Linked DNA regions of Homo sapiens. The protein of the gene in region 3 interacts with the protein of the main gene of each other region in a pairwise test. Each region holds a gene or a part of one and is shown on either strand. Other genes may lie near its edges.

Evidence for each region.
Region 1: the proteins of DES (region 3) and CT55 interact in binary tests that used the Homo sapiens proteins (3 or more experiments, as listed by UniProt).
Region 2: the proteins of DES (region 3) and PPL interact in binary tests that used the Homo sapiens proteins (3 or more experiments, as listed by UniProt).

Annotation. Positions count from the first base shown.
Region 1 is NC_000023.11:135,161,388-135,168,416, forward strand, and holds part of CT55 (cancer/testis antigen 55), read right to left. Parts: intron 1-7,029. UniProt on the Homo sapiens protein: Plays a role in spermatogenesis, possibly acting in the regulation of the autophagy pathway.
Region 2 is NC_000016.10:4,927,138-4,934,166, forward strand, and holds part of PPL (periplakin), read right to left. Parts: intron 1-7,029. UniProt on the Homo sapiens protein: Component of the cornified envelope of keratinocytes. May link the cornified envelope to desmosomes and intermediate filaments. May act as a localization signal in PKB/AKT-mediated signaling.
Region 3 is NC_000002.12:219,421,356-219,427,242, forward strand, and holds the end of DES (desmin), read left to right. Parts: coding exon 1-205; intron 206-2,421; coding exon 2,422-2,465; intron 2,466-4,307; coding exon 4,308-4,390; intron 4,391-4,593; coding exon 4,594-4,635; 3' UTR 4,636-5,197; coding exon of another isoform or gene 5,198-5,224; 3' UTR 5,225-5,379; downstream 5,380-5,887. UniProt on the Homo sapiens protein: Muscle-specific type III intermediate filament essential for proper muscular structure and function.

The DNA of each region.
Region 1 (7,029 bases), on a different chromosome or scaffold from region 3:
TACATTTTTGGCAGTAACACTCATCCTGATGTTTTTGTCTGTGCACAAATATATATACATGTGTAAATGCCTGTTTTAAAAGCAAATTAGCATGGTATTCAGTGTTAAAGTATCACATTAAATGAACACAAAAGTTTTTAAATAACAAGAGAGGACGGAAAGAGTCATAGGGAATCCCAATTAATGGATGTGCCGTAATTTACTAACCCAATTTCACATAATTAGACATTTCACTTGTGTCATAGCATTTGGACTACTTGCCTGACTTAACTATAGGATAAAATCCTAGGGTTGGCATTTGCTGAGCAGAGACTTCTGATGGAAACTTGAGCCACTGAGTTGTAAAGAATTTTTCATGGTTTTAAAAATAGCCTAGTTTGCTGCTATTCTCATTTCTAAACTGGTGTCTTTCCAGCTGTCAATACCAATCTGATGTTTATTATCCCCTCACTTACTGTCATGAAGGAATGAGGCATTAGCCTCCCATCCACATATCTATCACCACTTCCGTCAGTATCCCAGTGGATGATCCACAGCACCCTCGGACCTCTCTGTTCCTTGACTCCACGCCAACTCACAGACATATGCAGACTAAAGCTTTGCCCATGTCTCATGGCTCCCAGCTCTGTTTCTTATGCCTTGCAAAGACGACCAACACAACAGCCGGTACAAATAGATTCAAATGTTTACGATAATGTGTTGTATGACACAAGTGGCATTTCAATAAAAAGGGGCAATGTGGATTATACAATTAATGTTGAGGGACAACTGAGTAGCCAGTAGTGAAACAAGATGTGGATCCTTCTCTCAGTCCTGCACATGAAAAGCAAACCCAGGCTGGCTGTATGTTTAGATATAAATAAATGAATGACTTTCAGAAGAAAAGCTAAGTGAATACTTGTGTAAATTATGTCTTAGAATTAGCCTAAGGATACTTCCTGAACCCAGAAGCCACATGGACAAGATGGACATATTTATAGTATGTAAAAATTAAGCAGATAGAGGAGGAGGGGAGCAAGATGGAGAAATGGGACTCTCCAGTGATTGTCCTCCTGCAGAAACATCAATGTGAAAAACTATCCTTGTATGAAAATATCGTCACTTGACATAAAGAAACCAGGTGAGAGACCATGGTACCCGGTTATAGCATGAAAATAAGAAAACATGCACTGAAGAGGGTAGTAAGGACAGTTTTACATTACCCACATCACCCCTTCCCCGACCTTCAACAGCAAAGCATAAATAGAGATACCATCCATCCAGAGGAGAGAGACAGTAGCAAGCATAGGACATTGCCTAGGAACCCAATATCAGGCCACCACTTGACAGATGCCCATGGCCCCTGACTCTCAGATGGTACTTGTGGACAGAGTCTCTAGACCCACCCTGGCACCAGACAGGAAGCCACAGCCACAGCAAAACAAACTCAATATCTGGCCCACATCTCTCCCTAGTGATTCCAGTGGCCTTATGCTCAGAATAATCTACAGCAACAGGGAGTTCTCAGTGAATGGAGGCTTGGATTCCAGTCTCACAAGGGACCAGCCTCAATAGCTAGGGGAATCCCAGCCATCCTAGCACCTGCCGCTGTGTCCCTGTGAATAGGCATCCCCCTAGTGCTTCAATAGCTGTAGTGTTCACAAGCATAAGGACCAAAAGAGACCTATATAGAGTTTCTGGACAGGCTTACTGCTAAAGGATGTCCCCTAAAAGCTAGACTGCAAAGACCGAAATGGATACCTACTTCTTCAATACGCAGATATAAACACATTACCACAAAGATCAAACACAATAAGGAAAACATGACATCACCAAACTGACAAAACAAGGTGCCAGCAATTGACCCTAGAGAGACAGGAATATATGAGTTGTTTAACAAATAATTCAAAATATCTATTTTCCACATGCTCTGTGAACCTTGAAAACAATTACAGAGAAATGATTCAGGATTTATCAAAGTAAGTTGCAGGAAAGATTGAAAGAATTGTTAAAAACCAAGCAAATCCAGAAGTTGAAAAATACAGTGAAGGAAGTACACGATAGAGAACATCCAAAGAAGAATTGATTGAGCAAAAGAAAGAATCTGTAAACTTGGAGACAGGTTCATTGAAAATATACAGTCAGAGGAGACAAAATTAAAAGGAAGGACACGGAATGAAAAAAAACTAGATTTCTGGGACAATATCAGAAGAGCAATAGTATGAGTCATTCACATTCAAGAGGGAGGAGTGAAAAAGAGGTAAAAAGATCATTTAAAAAATAATAATGGAGAGCCATCCAAACCCAGAGAAAGTTACAAACGTCTAGGTACTGGAAGACCAAAGTTCTGCATTCAGATACAATCCAAATAAGATTACCCCATGACATATTAAAATCAAACTGTCAAAGATGAAAAATAAAGAAAGAATCCTGAGAGCAGTAAGAGGAAAGAAGCAAATCACATATAAGGCAGTTCCAATATGCCTACCAGAAGACTTCTCAGCAGAAGCATAATAGGCCAGGAGAGAGTAGTATAGTATACTTTAGGAACACAAGGAAAAAAATCTCTAAGCAAGAATAATGTACCCAGCAGTGAAGGGGAGATAAAGACTTTTACAGAGAAATCACAGCTGAGAAATTTCCTCACCACCGCAACTGTCTTACAAGAAATGCTAGGGAGAGTTCTTCCAACTGACGTAAGGGACGCTAATGAGTAATGCAAAAACATCTGAAGGTATAAAACTCACCAGTAAAGGTAACGACACAAATTCAGAATACTCTAATAAGGTAATGGTGGTTTCCAGATCACTTATATCTTTCATGTAAAGGTTAAAGAACTGAACTAGTAAAAATAAAATAAGTACAATAATTTGTTAAGGGATACAAAATATAAAAAATTGTAAAGTGTGAAATAGAAAACTCAAAATCCCAGGGTGGAGTTAAATAGTAAAGTGTTTGTATTTTGTGATCAAAGTTATGTTATCAGTAAAATAATCTGCCGTGATTATGTTTCCGTAAGCCTCATGCTATCCACAAAGAAAAACATCCTGTAATAGACACACTAAAACAAATACAAACAAAACCACAAAACACACTAATAGAGAAAAATCTCTTATCCATCAATGAAAACAGTAAAAGAGAAAGAAAGGAAGAAATTACCTACAAAATAGATAGAAAAAAATTATCTAAATGACAACAATAAATCCTTACCTATCAATAATTACCTTGATAGGAATGGATGACATCCCCCAATTAAAATGCACAGAGTAGCTGAATACATTTAAAAAGCAACAACAAAAACAATCAAACCTATGAGAGACCCACTTCTCCTTAAAGGGCATTCGTAAACTGAAAGTGAAGACATGAAAAAAGATATTCTTCCATGTAAAGGGAAACCAAAAGAGAGCAGGAGCTGCTAAACTGATTTCAAATAAAATAGAGTTTAAATCACAAACTGTAAAAAGAGACCAAGATCATTATAGAATGATGAAGGGGTCAATTCATCAAGAGGATATAATGATTTCCAAAAATATGCACCCAACATAGCAGCACCTAAATATATGAAGCAGACATTAAGGTATAAATGGTGAGATAGAGTGCAATGCAGTAATAGTAGGGGACTTCAACACCCAACTTGCAGCAATGAACAGATTGTCCCGACAGAACATTGACCCCACAAAAAGTGGGATTTATCTGCACTCCGGACCAAATGGACCTGACAGTCATTTACAGAACATTCCATCCAAATACTCCAAAACACATATTCTTTCCAACTGCATGTGGAACATTCTCGAGGATAGATTATGGGGCAGGTCATAAAACAGGTACTAGCAAATTAAGGGAATTTGAAATAACATCAAATCAGTTCTCTAACCACAACGGTAAAGTATTAGAAATCAATAAAAGTAGGAACTTTGGAAACTTTAGAAGTGGATGGAAATTAAACAACATGCTCCTAAATAACCAATGGGTCAATGAAGAAATTAGAAGCAAAGTGTAAACATTTCTTGAGTTGAAGCAAAATGAAGGCACAACATACGAAAACCCATGAAATACAGCAAAAGCAATTCTAAAAGTGAAGTTTACATCAATAAAACCTACCTCAAAAGAAAAGATACATCTTAAATAAACAACCTCACACTGCACCTTGGGGAACTAGAAAAACAAGAAAAAAATGCAATGCAAAATTAGGACAGAAATCATAAAGGTCAGAGCAGAAATAAATGAATAGAAATGAGAAGAACAATACAAATATCAATGAAACAATGACTTGGTTTCTTGAAGAGGTAAAGCAAATCAACAAAACTTTAGCTAGACTAAGGAAAAAAGAGAGAAGATTCAAATAACTAAAATCAAAGATGAAAAAGGACACAGCACAAATGACATCACCAAAACAAAACGTATCATAAGGAAGATTATGAACAATCATCTGCCTACAAATAGGACAAGCTAGAAGAAATGGCTACATTCCTGGACACATACAACCTACCGAGATGTAATGGTGAAGAAATGGAAAATCTGAACAGACCATTAATGAGTAAGGAAAGTGATTCAGTAATAAAAAATCCCCCATCAGTGAAGAGTCCAAGACAGAATGACTTCCCTTCCTAATACTACCAAATTTATATATAAAGAAGAATAATTAATAGCTATACTTTTAAACCTATTCCAAAAAAAAAAAAAAAAAAAAAAAAAAAACGGACAAGAGACGAACACTTCCGAACTCATTCTGTCACAACGCATTACCCTGGTAGAAAACCCAGATGAGGAAACAGAAAGAAGAGAAAACCAAAAAAAACTACATGCCAAAATTCCTGATCAACACAGTTGCAAAATCTTTAACAAAGTATTAGTAAAGCAATTTCCACAGCACATTAAAAAAATCATTCACCATGTTCTAGAGGACTTCATCCCTGGGATGCAGGGAAGTTTCAACATACACAAATCAATAAATGTGCTATATCACGTGAAAAGAATGAAGGAAAAAAGCCATAGGTTCATTCCAATTTCAGCAGGAAAAGCATTTGATTGAATTCCACACCTCTTCGTGACTAAAAACTCCACAAATTAGGTATAAGAGGAGTGCACCTCAACACAATAAAGGTCATATATGATAAACCCACAGATAACATCATACTGAATGGGGAAGTGTTGCAGGCTTTTCCTCTAAGACCTGGAACAGGACAGAAATGCCCACTTTTGCCCTTTCTATCGCACATAGTTCTGGAAGTGCTAACCAGAGAAATTAGGCAAGAAGAAACAAAAGGCATCTAAATTCAAAAGGAAGAATTTAGATTGGCCCTGTTTGCAGACGGGAAGCTGTTACTTATAAATAACCCTGAAGACACCACCAAACAGCTACTAGGTCTAATAAACAAATTCAGGAAAGTGGCATGAGACACAACCAACATACAAGAATCAGTAGTATCTCTATACACCAATAGGGAACTATCTGGAAAAGATATCAAGAAACAATCCCATTTACAACACCTTCAAAAAAATTAAAATAGGAATAAATTTAACCAAGGAGGTGAAGGATTGCAACACTGAAAACTATAAACCATTGACGAAGCAAATTGAAGGAGGCAGGAATGAATGGAAATATATCATGTGTTCATGAACAGGAAGAATAAAATATTGTTAAAATGTCCGTAACCTAAAGCAATCTATAGATTCAATGCAACTGCTATGAAAATACCAATGACATTCTTCTTGGAAATAGAAGAAATACTCCTAAAATTTGTATGGAACCATGAAAGATTCCAGACAGCTGAAGCAGTCTGGAATACAAGGAACAAAGCTGGAGGCATCACACTATGATGTCAAAACATATGACAAAGCTATAGTAAGCATAACAGCACAGTACCAGTATAAAAACGGACACATCAACCAATGGAGCAGAATACAGAGCCCGGAATTAAATCTGTGCATTTACAGTCAACTAATTTTTGACAAAAGGCCCGAGAACACACAATGTTGAGAAAGTACAGTCTCTTCAATAAATGATGTTGAAAATAACTGGATATTCATCTGAGAAAAATGAATTTCCACCCTTATCTCTCAGCGTGTATATAAATCAACTCAAAATGATTTAAAGCTTTAAAATGAAGACCCAAAGCTGTGAAACTACTAGAAGGAGACATAGGGGGAAAGCTCCATGACATTGTTCTGGGCAACGATATTTTAAAAACAGGACCTCAAAAGCAAAGGCAAGAAAAGGAAAAATACACAAATGGGATTACATTGAACTAAAAAGCTTCTGCACCACAGAGGAAACAATCAAAGAGTGGAGAGACAATCTATGCGATAGGAGAAAACATTGACAATCTATGTATCTAGTAAGGGGTCAGTTTCCAAAATGTAACTCCAACAACACAATAGCAAGAAAACAAATAATCCTATTAAAAATGAGCAAAAGACCTGAATAGACATTTCTCAAAAGGAGACATACAAATGGCTAACAGGCATGTGAAAAAACACTCACCTTCTCTAATCATCAGGGTAATGCATATCGGAACCACAGAGATACCGAGTCACGCATGTTAGAATGGCTAACATTAAAAAGACAAGATATAACAAGTGTTGGCAAGGATGTGGAGAAATTGGAAGCTTTATGCACGGTTGGTGGGATGTAAATTGTTACAGCCACCATGGAAAACAGTATGGACATTCCCCAATATTTTAACAATGGAACTATCACACTATCCATGAATCCCACTACTGAGCATGTATCCAAAGAGAGTGTCATCAGTGTGTCAAAGAGATGTCAGCACTTCCATGTTTGTTGCAGCCCTATTCACAATAGCTATGAAATGAAAGCAATCTAAGTGTCCATCTACGGATGAGTGTATAAAGGAAATGTGGTATAAATACACAAGGGAATGCTATTCAGCCATAAAACAGAACAGAATATTGCCGTTTGAAATAACCTGGATGAACCTGGAGAATGATATGTAAGTGAGATAAGCCAGTCACACAAAGACAAATACTGCACGGTCACATTCACATGCAGAAGATAAAAAAGTTGATCTCATAGCAGTGTAGAGTAGA
Region 2 (7,029 bases), on a different chromosome or scaffold from region 3:
AAAAGACTCTCCGGTGAGATTACAAAACACACACCTTCCCCAAGCTATATGCCATTTTATAAGACACACACACTTGAAACTAAATGATACAGGAAGGTTGAGAATAAAGAATGGAGAGTGACATACCAGGCAACTGATACTGAAGAGAGAAAGCACTGTCCATATATCTCAAAGACAAGAGGGAGCGAGGCAATCCATGTAACTATGTGGTTCCCAACAGCTGCACATCAAAAGAATGATGTCTGGACCCATGTCCATGGAGATTTTGACTTAACTGGTCTTGGAAAGGGCTCTGACATGCTGTTCAAAACTCCTCAGGTGATTCTAATGTACAGCCAGGGATGAGAACAAGGAACTGAACCACAGCAAGGTTTAAAAGAAGCAAGATGCCGAAGAATCCTAGATCTCTATAGGAAGGAAGCCCTGTGAGAAAGCAGTACACAGAATGTGCCCAATGAATACCAGATTGATTGGTCAATTGACTGATTCTCTCACTACTAGAAACTCCTGTGCTAATTAGACAGTAAATGTCCTCACACCCAGCTATTAATCCTGTGGAAATATATCCTAAGATGAGAAGGTTGCTGGTGTAGTAATTCCAGGTCTGTTTTTAAGGCCTAATCTGTTTCTGCCCAGGGAAGGCCGCCCTGCCTCCAGGCCTCTGATGGGGCCTAGGGTTCTGTGTCAGGTGAGTGCTTTTGGGCTCCTTTTACAAACATACAGAAGTTCAAGCTGCTTCAGGTAACACCAAGGCAGGTCTTGAAGACAGGGCAACACAGCAAGACCCTATTTCTACCAAAAATAAATAAATAAATAAAATTAGCTGGGCATGGTTGTGCATGCCTCTAGTCCTGGCTGCTCAGGAGGCTGAGGTGGGAGGATTCATAGCTCACTGCAGCTTTGAATTCCTAGACTCGGGGGATAAACAGGGCTCAAGCCAACTTTGGTGCCCCAAGGCATCAGGATGTCACTCTGGGTTCAGGACCACTGGAGAAAGAGCACCAGCCTCCTTTTTCATTTTTTGAGACAGAGTCTTGCTCTGTTATTCAGGCTGAAGTGCATTGCTGCACTTCACTCACTGCAGCCTTCAACTCTTGGGCTCAAACACAAAATATATTTTGTATTTTTAGTAGGGACAGGGTTTCACCATGTTGGCCAGGCTGGTCTCCAACACCTGACCTTAGGCCTCCCAGAGTGTTGGGATTACAGGCATGGGCCACTGTGCCCGGCCATCTCAGCAGTTCTTACCCAGACACTTTGAGAGGGCTGGCAGGGTGTCCTGGCCGCCCCGCCCATCCTTTCCTAGGCAGAGGGTTTTTGTCATGCTTTGTAAGATAAAACACACCAGAGCTGCTGGCTGAGCCTGCAAGGCCGCAGGGCTGTGGGAGAAATAGAACTTGCAGAATTTTTTGCTGCCCCCACTGCCTGGGCTAGGATTTCAGGCTGATACCTTTTAGGGTTTCAAATTCTCTGCCTTCGCCATGGCGATGGTTTGTTTCCCATCGAAGGGTGGGAAAGGATTCCAAGTTTGTACCACAAAGAAGAGACAGGGCTTCAACCCTGCTTCAATCTCAGATAAGAAACTCTATTTGGCTGGGAGCAGTGGCTCATGCCTGTAATCCCAGCACTTTAGGAAGCCGAGGCAGGTGGATCACCTGAGGTCAGGTGTTTGCGACCAGCCTGGCCAACATGGTGAAACCCCGTCTCTACTAAAAATACAAAATATAGCCAGGCGTGGTGGTGGGCGCCTGTAATCCCAGCTACTTGGGAGGCTGAGGCAGGAGAATCACTTGAACCCAGGAGGCAGAGAGGTTGCAGTGAGCTGAGATTGTGTCACTTCACTCCAGCCTGGGCAACAAAAGTGAAACTCTACCTTAAAAAAAAAAAAAAAAAAAAAAAAAAAAAAGATCTGCCGAGAGTCCTGGAGCGAGTCACTCAAACTCTCTGAGCCTCACTTGGAACGAGAGCTGAGGGTAGAATTTATCTCAGACAATGTAATAATCATAATTTAGGGTGATGGTTTTAAGCTAGCACCCAACCTCAAGGCCTTTCTGTGTTCATACCTTTCCCAGTTCTGGTCCCCTCCCCTCTCACTTCCTTGCAGAGACTCTCCATTTTTGTCTCCCCATCCAGAACCTGCCTGCTTGCCTTCCAGGACTGGGCCCCCTTTGCTTCCTGAGGTCCCTCTTCTTCCTCTCCCAGACCTTTTATTTTGCTATGGACTGGACTCTGAGACCCAGGACTCAGGGCTTGCCTGCAGGCTCTTCCCACGCTGTGCCCCCCGCCAGCTGTGCCCCACGCCAGCTCGCCTTCTCTACTCCACCCTTCACCTAAACTGGAAAACTCGTGATCTACTCAGACATGCAGAAAAGTACTGAAAAGAATCAGCCACGCATGTCCCCACCACCACGGTTTGGTTGATGTTTTCACAGTACCATCTTTGCTGCAGATTTTTCTAAAAAGGAAGAGAAATGTTATTGTTCATTATCCTTTCAGGCCCCTTCTTAGGAGTAGCAGAATTTTAGATTTACTGGTTCTTCCTAAGCCTGTTTTATTTTATTTATTTAGAGACAGGGTCTTGCTCTGTTGCCCAGGCTGGAGTGCAGTGGCACAATCACAGCTCACTGCAGCCTTGAATTCCTGGACTCAGGGATCCTCCCCTCTCAGCCTCCTGAGTAGCTAAGACTAGAGGCATGCACCACCATGCCCAGCTAATTTTTTTTTTTTTTTGGTAGAAATAGGGTCTCACTATGTTGCCCAGGCTCGTCTTCAACTCCTGGCCTCAAGTCATCCTCCCGCCTTGGCCTCCCAAAGCGCTAGGACAAGTGCGAACCACTGCACCTGGTTCCCTAAGCTTTCCAATACATAGACACATCTGCATTCAGGAAGAGTAAGTGGAATTGCTCTGTGTATGTTTCTAAAAATGTATATATGCAAGCATCATCTTTGCATCCTTCATCAACTTGCTTTGCTTGCTCACTGTCATGCCTTTTCGGGTCGTGGATACACACATCCCCGTCACCTTCTGTCAACTGCACTCTCTTTATCCTCTCATCTCCAACTGATCCCCGGGTTCGGCGTGGAGGACCTCTCCTGAAGAAGCCTGTGTGGCTGGGTCAGGGCCCTCCTTTATCTCACTATCACTCCGCATTGCTGCCAGCTGTGTACTCAGCCAACTCTCTGCTCACCGTCCTGCACGCAGGAGGTGACTGGATGGGGACAGGGCAGGGGGCAGCCTGCTCAGGCCTCGCACTCCTTTCCACTAGCTGGAACCCCTGCCCCATTCATCCCCACCTCCGGGCTCTGCTGGTCCTGGGGTGTGAAGCGCAGGGCAATGTATGCTCTCTTGAAATGCTGAGGGAAGGGGAGAATCTTAGCAGTCCCCCATGGCTTACTCTCATTCATTCATTCATTCAGCACGCGTGTAGCACCAGTGTCTGGGGGAAGGCAGCCACACAGCCACATGTGGCTACCCCGGAGTCACATAGCTGCTGAGATAAGAGCTACCAAGGAGAAGGGGAGTCCATAGAATAGGTGGATCTACCCCAGCAGAGAGGTTGGGGAAGGCTTCCCTGAGGAACAGAAGGTAAACCTGGAAGTGGAAGAGAAGCAGTGAAAAGGGGTGGGAGGGGCATTCTGGGCAACAGGAATGGCAGAGGGAAAGGCCTTGTGGCCGGGCACAGCGTGGAAACAAGACGGTGACAGGCACATGTTGATGTGCAGGGCACCAGCTCCCAGGGCCTAAGAGCAAAGAGAGGTCTGGGGCAGGGGTTAAGCAGCTGGAGGTATGGTCAGATTTATGTCGTAAGGAGCTCCCTGGCTGCCATGGGGAGAAGGGACTGGAGCGCTGGAGTGGAAGAAGGAACAGTGAAGAGGGACTGGAGGCCTGCTGGGCTGCTGGCTCTGCAGGCAGGGAGAAGTGGGGATCCATTTAAAGGGAAAGGGCCTGCGTGCAGTGGCTCATGGCTGTAATCTCAGTGCTTTGGGAGGCTAAGGCAAGAGGCTCACTTGAGCCCAGGAGTTCAGGACCAGAGTGGGCAATATAGTGAGACCCCATCTCTACAAATATTAAAAATTAGCGGGGCACGGTGGTGTGCACACCTGTAGTCCCAGCTTCTTGGGAGGCTGAGGCATGAGGATTGCTTGAGCCCAGCAGTTCAAGGCTACAGTGAGCTATGATCGCACCACTGCACTCCAATCTGGGTGATACAGTGACAGCCTGTCTCTAAAGAATAAAGAAAGAACACTTAAAAAAAATAGGTTGGGGTAGGGAAGGGCAGGGCTGGGACCTGAAGAGAGCTTTGTCCCACCCGGAGGCAGAAAGGGGCACCAGGTGGCCTCCCGGGCTCCAGAGGCTGCAGCACAGCAACCCATCAGAAGCCGGGAGAACAAAGACCAGAGGCCGTTTCCCCATTCGCTCCCAAGACAGGCCGGGGCAGGCAGGCTGGGAGGATGCAAGGTGGTGCCGGTAACACCGGCACAGACCTGCCGGGAGCAGAGAGCAGCTGCACGCTGGGAAGCCAGGGTTCTCTTCCCCAGACGAGGAGCTTTGGAAGCTCTCTAAAGCAGCTTCTCCCCCAGGTCCCCTACTTCCAGGGCCTCCCCCAACCACACCCTTAGGGTATTGCTTAAAGGGTGTGGACGGAGCTGAGTCTCTCCCCCAAAATACCCTTTCCCAACATGATCCGCCCGACAGTGCCTGAAATGCTACCATTAGCAGCTGTTCCTCCAGGTAAGCTCAGCTCTGTCCTGAATCGAATTTATCCAGTCTCATTCCTTCTTCCAAGAGAACTGGGCAAGGGATGGAGGGGCAAAGCTAGAGAGAAGAGAGGTAGAGGGGGTTGCTGGGGGTAGAGGCAGTGAGCACAAACACCAATGACTCTACCATTTGGCCTGGAGCAGTCCCCAGGCACAGTTGCTGCCAGATCCAGGTACGAGTGGGGAGGCCTCATTTGCTTCCCCAGGCCCCCCTGGACTTCCAGCATCAGCCATTTGTGAGCTGTGAGCTCAAGGTGAATGTGAGCCCTCTGTGAAACAGGACACTTCCACCTGCATGGCAGGCCCGCTGTCAGAATGAGATGTAACATCCATGGCCTTGCTGGGCTCACAGTATGTGCCTGAGAAATGGCGGGGCGGCTCTCTCTAAGCTGTTACCCACATGGGTCCCCTCCCATATCGATCAGGCGTTCCTACCAACACTGATCGATGGGTGCATGTGCGTGTCTGCTTGAGTCAGCTCCCTGGTCAGCTCTGGGCTTGGCTCAGTCATGAATCTTTTTTTTTTTTTTTTGAGACGGAGTCTCGCTCTGTCTCCCAGGCTGGAGTGCAGTGGTGTGATCTCGGCTCACTGCAATCTCTGCCTCCCAGGTTCAAGTGATTCTCCTGCCTCAGCCTCCCCAGTATCTGGCTGGGATTACAGGTTTCCGCCACCACACCCAGCTAATTTTTAATATTTATTTTTGTAGAGATGGGATTTCACCATGTTGGCCAGGCTGGTCTTGAACTCCTGACCTCAAGTGATCCGTCCGCCTTACCCTCTCAGAGTGCTGGGATTACAGGCGTGAGCTACCGCGCCCAGCCCGTCATGACTCTTAATAGCAGTGTGTGCTTCCTAGTATTGGCTGCTATGATTTGCCGGGCACTCGCTCTGAACCAGGTCATGGGCTGGACCCATCATGTGCATCCCCTCATTTGATCTACCCAGCAGCCTCACCAACTGGGGGTTGCTGTTGTCACCCCACCTCATAGATGAAGAAACTGAGGCTCGGAGACATTAAGTGACTTGCCCAAGATCAAACAGCTTAAGAGACCCAGAGCTGCGGCCTGAACTCATGCCCAGCTAGCATCAAACACTGTGTTCTTGCTTTTTTTTTTTTCTTTTTGAGACAGAGTCTCACTCTTTTACCCAGGCTGGAGTGCAGTAGCACAATCTCAGCTCACTGCAACCTCTGCCTCCCAGGTTCAAGGGATTCTCCTGCTTCAGCCTCCTGAGTAGCTGGGACTACAGGCACCCACCCCCATGCCCAGCTAATAAAACACTGTGTTCTTAACCACTAAGAGGCTCAGGGTACCCCAGGTGCCTCCCAGTAGAGCATGCTTCCCTTTTGCCAGCTCTCCCCTCAAAGCCTGGGGTCCTGCCTCCCATGCAGGAGCGCTCCATCAGGGCGGCCCCAGTGTTGCAAGACCCGTCTAGGCAAGGCCAGGCTGCTGGGTGTTTACTGGGACCCAGGTCTGGGTGGAGGGGCAAGATTAATCCCATTCAACAAATTCAGAAGCGCTGGGGCTCAGGGATGCTATGTTTCTTTTCAAGCAGAGGCAGAATTGAGCCTGACTGCAGAGCTGGGTCTTGGCCACTCCATCCCACCCCGTGACAGGTCAGATGCCTCCTCTGTGAAGTCCTCCCTCACCTCCCAGCATCTGTGCTCTGACTGTGACAACTCTCACTTGAGGCCTGTCACAAAGTATGTGAGTGGCCAGGGTGGAGACCTCATCTGTCCGGCTCTATGCTCCATTGCTCCTGCCTGGCCCCATCAGTCCGACGCTCATGTAACCATACATGTACTGAAGCTTAACTCCATCTTATCTCTGTGATGTGACTGCCAGCGACTCAAGTGCAGGGAGGTTGTCCACGTCTCCTCCACGACCACGTGCTAAAACCCAGCAACAGTGCCTATGGAATTGTGCAGTGCACAGCCTGTCCACCATGATATCAAGTTTAACCCTGGGTACACCACAGCTAGCTTGCCCGCATTTGCTTAATAACTGTAATCGTCACAGATGCTATTACCTGCGGCCGCTTATCATTCACAACCTTTCCCCTGCATTATTTCATTTAATCCTGAGCCAACATCGCCAGGCAGGCACCGTGCTTATTCCCATCCCACAGGTGAGAAAACAGGCTCAGAGAAGCCAAGCAGCTCCTCTGAGGTCGCACAGCCAGGAGGGTGGCAGCGGGTCTCCTCCAGGGCCTCTCTACTAGGCTGGAGGCTGTCCTCGGTCACCTGCACCATCTGGCCTGACTCTGTCATT
Region 3 (5,887 bases):
GGCAGATGCGGGAATTGGAGGACCGATTTGCCAGTGAGGCCAGTGGCTACCAGGACAACATTGCGCGCCTGGAGGAGGAAATCCGGCACCTCAAGGATGAGATGGCCCGCCATCTGCGCGAGTACCAGGACCTGCTCAACGTGAAGATGGCCCTGGATGTGGAGATTGCCACCTACCGGAAGCTGCTGGAGGGAGAGGAGAGCCGGTGAGGGGCCAGGCAGGAGCCCGAGTGGGAGGTGCGGGGTGCTGGGTGGTCCATTTCTGTCCCCAGGAGGCTCGAGATTACTGATTACCTCAACAAGACCTGGAAACAATTTTTTTTTTTTTTGAGATGGAGTTTCGCTCTTGTCGCCCAGTCTGGAGTGCAATGGCACCATCTTGGCTCACTGCAACCTCCGCCTCCTGGGTTCAAGCAATTCTCCTGCCTCAGCTTCCCGAGCAGCTGGGATTACAGGCGCCTACCACCACGCCTGGCTAATTTTTGTATTTTTAGTAGAGACGGGGTTTCACTATGTTGGGCAGCTGGTCTCGAACTCCTGACCTCAGGTGATCTGCCTACCTCAGCCTCCCAAAGTACTGGGATTACAGGCGTGAGCCACCGCACCCGGCGTGGAAACAATTTTATACAAGAGGCCACTGCTCTATTAATTGCAGAGAATTAACCAAGGCCACCTGGGTAAAAAGCAATTTAATTAACAGCATTTATAAAAAGAGAAATATAAGTATTCCCTTATCCACCTTCAGAATTAAGAACCAGCAGCAAAAAAAACCATATTCAGCAACCAATAATAAAATATTACTGCCAGTCAAGGGAGAGATGAAAGCAGAATGGGGAGTGATGAGGAGGGAAACGGAGGGAGCAGATAGAGGCAAATAGAGAGAGGGAGGGAGAGAAGCCTTGCACAGGGATAGGCTAAGAGAAGGTAAAGAGATGCATACAGAAGGCATGAGTTTGCACACACATGCACACATGTCAGCATATGCACATGTTCGGAGGAAAAGACACAGACGTCATGCTCAGAGCAACCCACCTCTAGACACAGAAAACAACATACAACTGGAAAGGGACACCAGGGAACCTTGTGGGATAACAGAAATGTTCTATATCTTTTTTTTTTTTTTTTTTTGAGACAGAGTCTTGCTCTGTCACCCAGGCTGGAGTGCAGTGGTGTGATCTCAGCTCACTGCAACCTCTGCCTCCCAGGCTCAAGCGGTTCTCCTGTCTCAGCCTCCCTAGTAGCTGGGATTACAGGCGTGTGCCAACACACTCAGCTGATTTTTTGTATTTTTAGTAGAGATGAGGTTTCACCATGTTGGTCAGGCTGGACTCTAACTCCTGACCTCAAGTAATTCGCCTGCCTCAGCCTCCCAAAGTGCTGGGATTATAGGCATGAGCCACTGTGCCTGGCCTAGAAATGTTCTATATCTTGATTTGGACTGGTAGTTACACAGACGTGGACATTGATCAAAACTCATTGAATTGTACATTAAAGATCTGTGCATTTCACTGTATGTAAATTTAACCTCAATTTAAAACAGATCAGTTACTCCAAAAACTGGTACCCCTTGATACTCATAAAAATAATATCTGAAATTTTTAAAAAGGAGCAGACATGTTTAGATACAGGTACAAACATAAAGAGAAACTTCAGATTTTGTAAAATCACGTCTACATATGATGGCCTTTGAAGGTAGCTAAAGGCATGTTGCATTTTCCCAGCATTAGGCCTAAATAGTAAGCTCTCAGAACTGGCCTGGCTGGAGGGTGGGCATGAGCAATGGATATCACCCACAGCTGCTACTAGTACCAACTTCAGTGCCAGGAGCAAGAAGGAAATCCTGGTGCTCTGGAGGGCGCGGTGGGGTTGCACATCCTAGTGTCGTGCCAGCAGTTCACAGTTGAAATAATGATCCTTCCAGAAGAGACTATTCCTGGGACAGCTCTAGCTGGCCTTCGACCCCATTCCTTGAGCAGTATGGGTGGTGGGAGTGCTGGGGTCCGTGGGACTGGGACAGCTGAGGATGGTGTTTAGAAAGGACCAGGGTGAGCCTTGATGGGCGGTCTCAGGGAAAGATGGGAGGGTTCTTTTTTTTTTTTTTTTGAGACAGGGTCTTGTTCTGTCCCCCAGGCTGGAGTGCAGTGGTGCAATCTCCGCTCACTGCAAGCTCCACCTCCTGGGTTCGCACCATTCTCCTGCCTCACCCTCCTGAGTATCTGGAACTACAGGTGCCCGCCACCATGCCCGGCTAATTTTTTGTATTTTTAGTAGAGACGGGGTTTCACTGTGTTAGCCAGGATGGTCTCGATCTCCTGACCTGGTGATCCGCCCGCCTCGGCCTTTCAAAGTGCTGGGATTACAGCTGGGCCCGGCCGATGGGAGGGTTCTTAACTCTTAGGAGGTTTTGTCTCTTCCCTTTTAGGATCAATCTCCCCATCCAGACCTACTCTGCCCTCAACTTCCGAGGTGAGTGTCTGCTGGCAGGCGGAGGCTGGAGTTGCAGGGGCCAGGAGTCCAGCATGGGCACTGCCCAAGGCCAGCCAGGAGGGAGGATGGGACCCTGGGGCTAGGGACAGACCTGGAGTCTGGGGAAGAAAAAGGGGACCACTGCGGGTAGGTGGGGGAGTTTAGGTAGAGGTGGATGAGGCAACTTATGACAGAGAGAGCTTTTTATGTGATTATATTGTATTGTATTTACCATGTCCCCTGCACCTTCTTGGAGTATTGGGCCTCAGGAAGCAGCCTCTGTTCTGAATCCCAAACTCTGAAAGCAGGAGTGTCCTTGGGGACCTGGCTTCAGGAGCATCTCATACCACCTGCCCTCTAAGACACCCACAGCCCATTGTCTGTTTGGCACATTGCCAAGCCCCACCTTGGCTGCTTGTCGAACACCTCCAGTTTGCTGGAGCAAGATGTTGGATGCACGTTTGGAAAAAAATGCCAAATCTTAGCAAAGCCAAACAATGAAAAGAACGAGCTCTTAGGGCACTCTGCCATTTTGACATTAGTAATACGCAGATCGGGTGGCTTTCCAACCCCAGAGAGCAGAGAAACACACGATAATGATGCATTAGGAAAGCAAGTCGGAGTCCTTGGCAGCTTCTCCTTTCCTAGATCAAACCTTTTCTATCTTCGATGTACATTTCCATCAGGAAAAAAAACACGCTGCGCTCCAGCGAGTCACAACATTCATCACAGGCTGGTTGCTAGCTAAGGAAATTCGTAAGCACCAAACTCATAATACCAAGGACCTCCATTTGACCTTTCCTACACAACTCAGAGCCTCTCTTTTCAGTTAGTTGTTTATACAGACACCAAGTATGAGTCTTGCATTTAAAACTTCATAGTACAAAAAACTCCACCCACATTGCACAGTGCTTTTCCAAATCAATAGCTTTGTGGCCATGATAAGGTTGGTACCACTTCACTCCGTGTCCTCAGTGAGGAAACTGAGGCACAGAATGGCAAGTGACTGAGCATCAGCACAATGAGTCAGTGCCTTATTCCTGCTCTGTCTCACTTTAAGACATCAAGTTGCTCATCTGAATTTTTTTTTTCTTTTGAAACGGAGTCTCGCTCTGTCGCCCAGGCTGGAGTGCAGTGGTGCAATCTCGGCTCACCGCAACCTCCGCCTCCCAGGTTCAAGCAATTCTCCTGCCTCAGCCTCCTGAGTAGCTGGGATTACAGGCATGTGCCACCACGCCCCCCTAATTTTTGTATTTTTAGTAGAGACGGGGTTTCACCATGTTGGTCAGGGTGGTCTGGAACTCCTGGCCTCATGATCCACCTGCCTCGGTCTCCCAAACTACTGGGATTACAGATGTGAGCCACCGCACCTGGCCCTGAAATCTTAAAGGGAGATAGGTACTGTAAGGTCCTCTAAAGAGTGTCTTGAGACTGGGCTTTGGGGTTCTATCTTGAAGAAGGGGAGTCCCAGGAGACAAATGTGTGCAGGGCTCTCCTGGGGCCTGGGGGTGGAGAGGAACTAGGAGGGATGGGGAATGTCAGTGCTGTGCAGCCTGGGCCTCAGGTGTCCCCTACCCTCCTGCACCATCCTGCACATGGAGCAAATCTGTTGGCTCCTGAGACCATCTAAACTATGGGACAGGCGCTGGGGACTGCAGAACCACCTGCTGGGTGCTGGGCTGAAGGAAAGGTGTTAAAGTCTTGAAGAAGTAACAAGCCTGTCTTGAGGGGGGTTGGGGTCTGCTAGGGCTCTGCCCAATGTGGCCCCAGATGGACTCCCAGCCCCTGGTATAGCCCAGCCTGGACTTGGTCAGGCTGAGTGTGCGATGGACCCTGTTACAGAAACCAGCCCTGAGCAAAGGGGTTCTGAGGTCCATACCAAGAAGACGGTGATGATCAAGACCATCGAGACACGGGATGGGGAGGTAAGTGGTCTGTCTGGGCTCCTTACCCTTGGTGGGGGCTATGGATGTGTCTGGGGGGACTGTCTTCCACCCAGCTGTGCTGGTCTAGGTCCCTGGCTAGTGGGGCAAGAGAGATCCTGCGGCCCTGGGGTGGGGATGGCTCAGGGCTGAGGCTCCATTCTCTGGCTAGCACATGGTTGGACTGGGCTTCTCTTCCTCCCCAGGTCGTCAGTGAGGCCACACAGCAGCAGCATGAAGTGCTCTAAAGACAGAGACCCTCTGCCACCAGAGACCGTCCTCACCCCTGTCCTCACTGCTCCCTGAAGCCAGCCTTCTTCCATCCCAGGACACCACACCCAGCCTCAGTCCTCCCCTCACAGCCTCTGACCCCTCCTCACTGGCCATCCCTCGTGGTCCCCAACAGCGACATAGCCCATCCCTGCCTGGTCACAGGGCATGCCCCGGCCACCTCTGCGGACCCCAGCTGTGAGCCTTGGCTGTTGGCAGTGAGTGAGCCTGGCTCTTGTGCTGGATGGAGCCCAGGCGGGAGCGGTGGCCCTGTCCCTCCCACCTCTGTGACCTCAGGCACTAGCCTTTGGCTCTGGAGACAGCCCCAGAGCAGGGTGTTGGGATACTGCAGGGCCAGGACTGAGCCCCGCAGACCTCCCCAGCCCCTAGCCCAGGAGAGAGAAAGCCAGGCAGGTAGCCAGGGGGACTAGCCCCTGTGGAGACTGGGGGGCTTGAAATTGTCCCCGTGGTCTCTTACTTTCCTTTCCCCAGCCCAGGGTGGACTTAGAAAGCAGGGGCTACAAGAGGGAATCCCCGAAGGTGCTGGAGGTGGGAGCAGGAGATTGAGAAGGAGAGAAAGTGGGTGAGATGCTGGAGAAGAGAGGAGAGGAGAGAGGCAGAGAGCGGTCTCAGGCTGGTGGGAGGGGCGCCCACCTCCCCACGCCCTCCCCTCCCCTGCTGCAGGGGCTCTGGAGAGAAACAATAAAGAGATTCACACACAAGCCAAGCTGGCCCCTGTTGTCTTGACTGCCAGGTCTCCTGTGGGGCCCCTGGGGCCCTGTGATACAACCTGTCACCCTGAGATGGACTATACTGACCTTCTACCCAGCCAGACTTTCCCCAGGGCCTCGCGCCCACTTCTGTTCCCAGAGCCACCTGGCCTTGATGTCTGTATGCAGTGTATGGGGCAGGGAGGGCTGGACAGGGCTTTTGTTGGGGAACCACAAATACCTCTCGTTAGGCCCCAGTTCCAGGACTGCACCCCTTGTGCTCTCTACTACACCTTCAGGTCAGCCAGGCTGGGGGACACCACCTGCTATTCCTTTTGAAGGATGTAGCTGCTCCCCACTGACTGGCTCTGAAGTAGGGCTCCCCCAGTCCCTTCTTCAAAGATGCCAACAGCCCCTTTTTTTTCTCTCTCTCTTTTTTTCTTTTTGAGATGGAGTCTTGCTGTGTCACCCAGGCTGGAGTGCAGCAGTGTGATCACGGCTTACTGCAGCCTGGACTTCC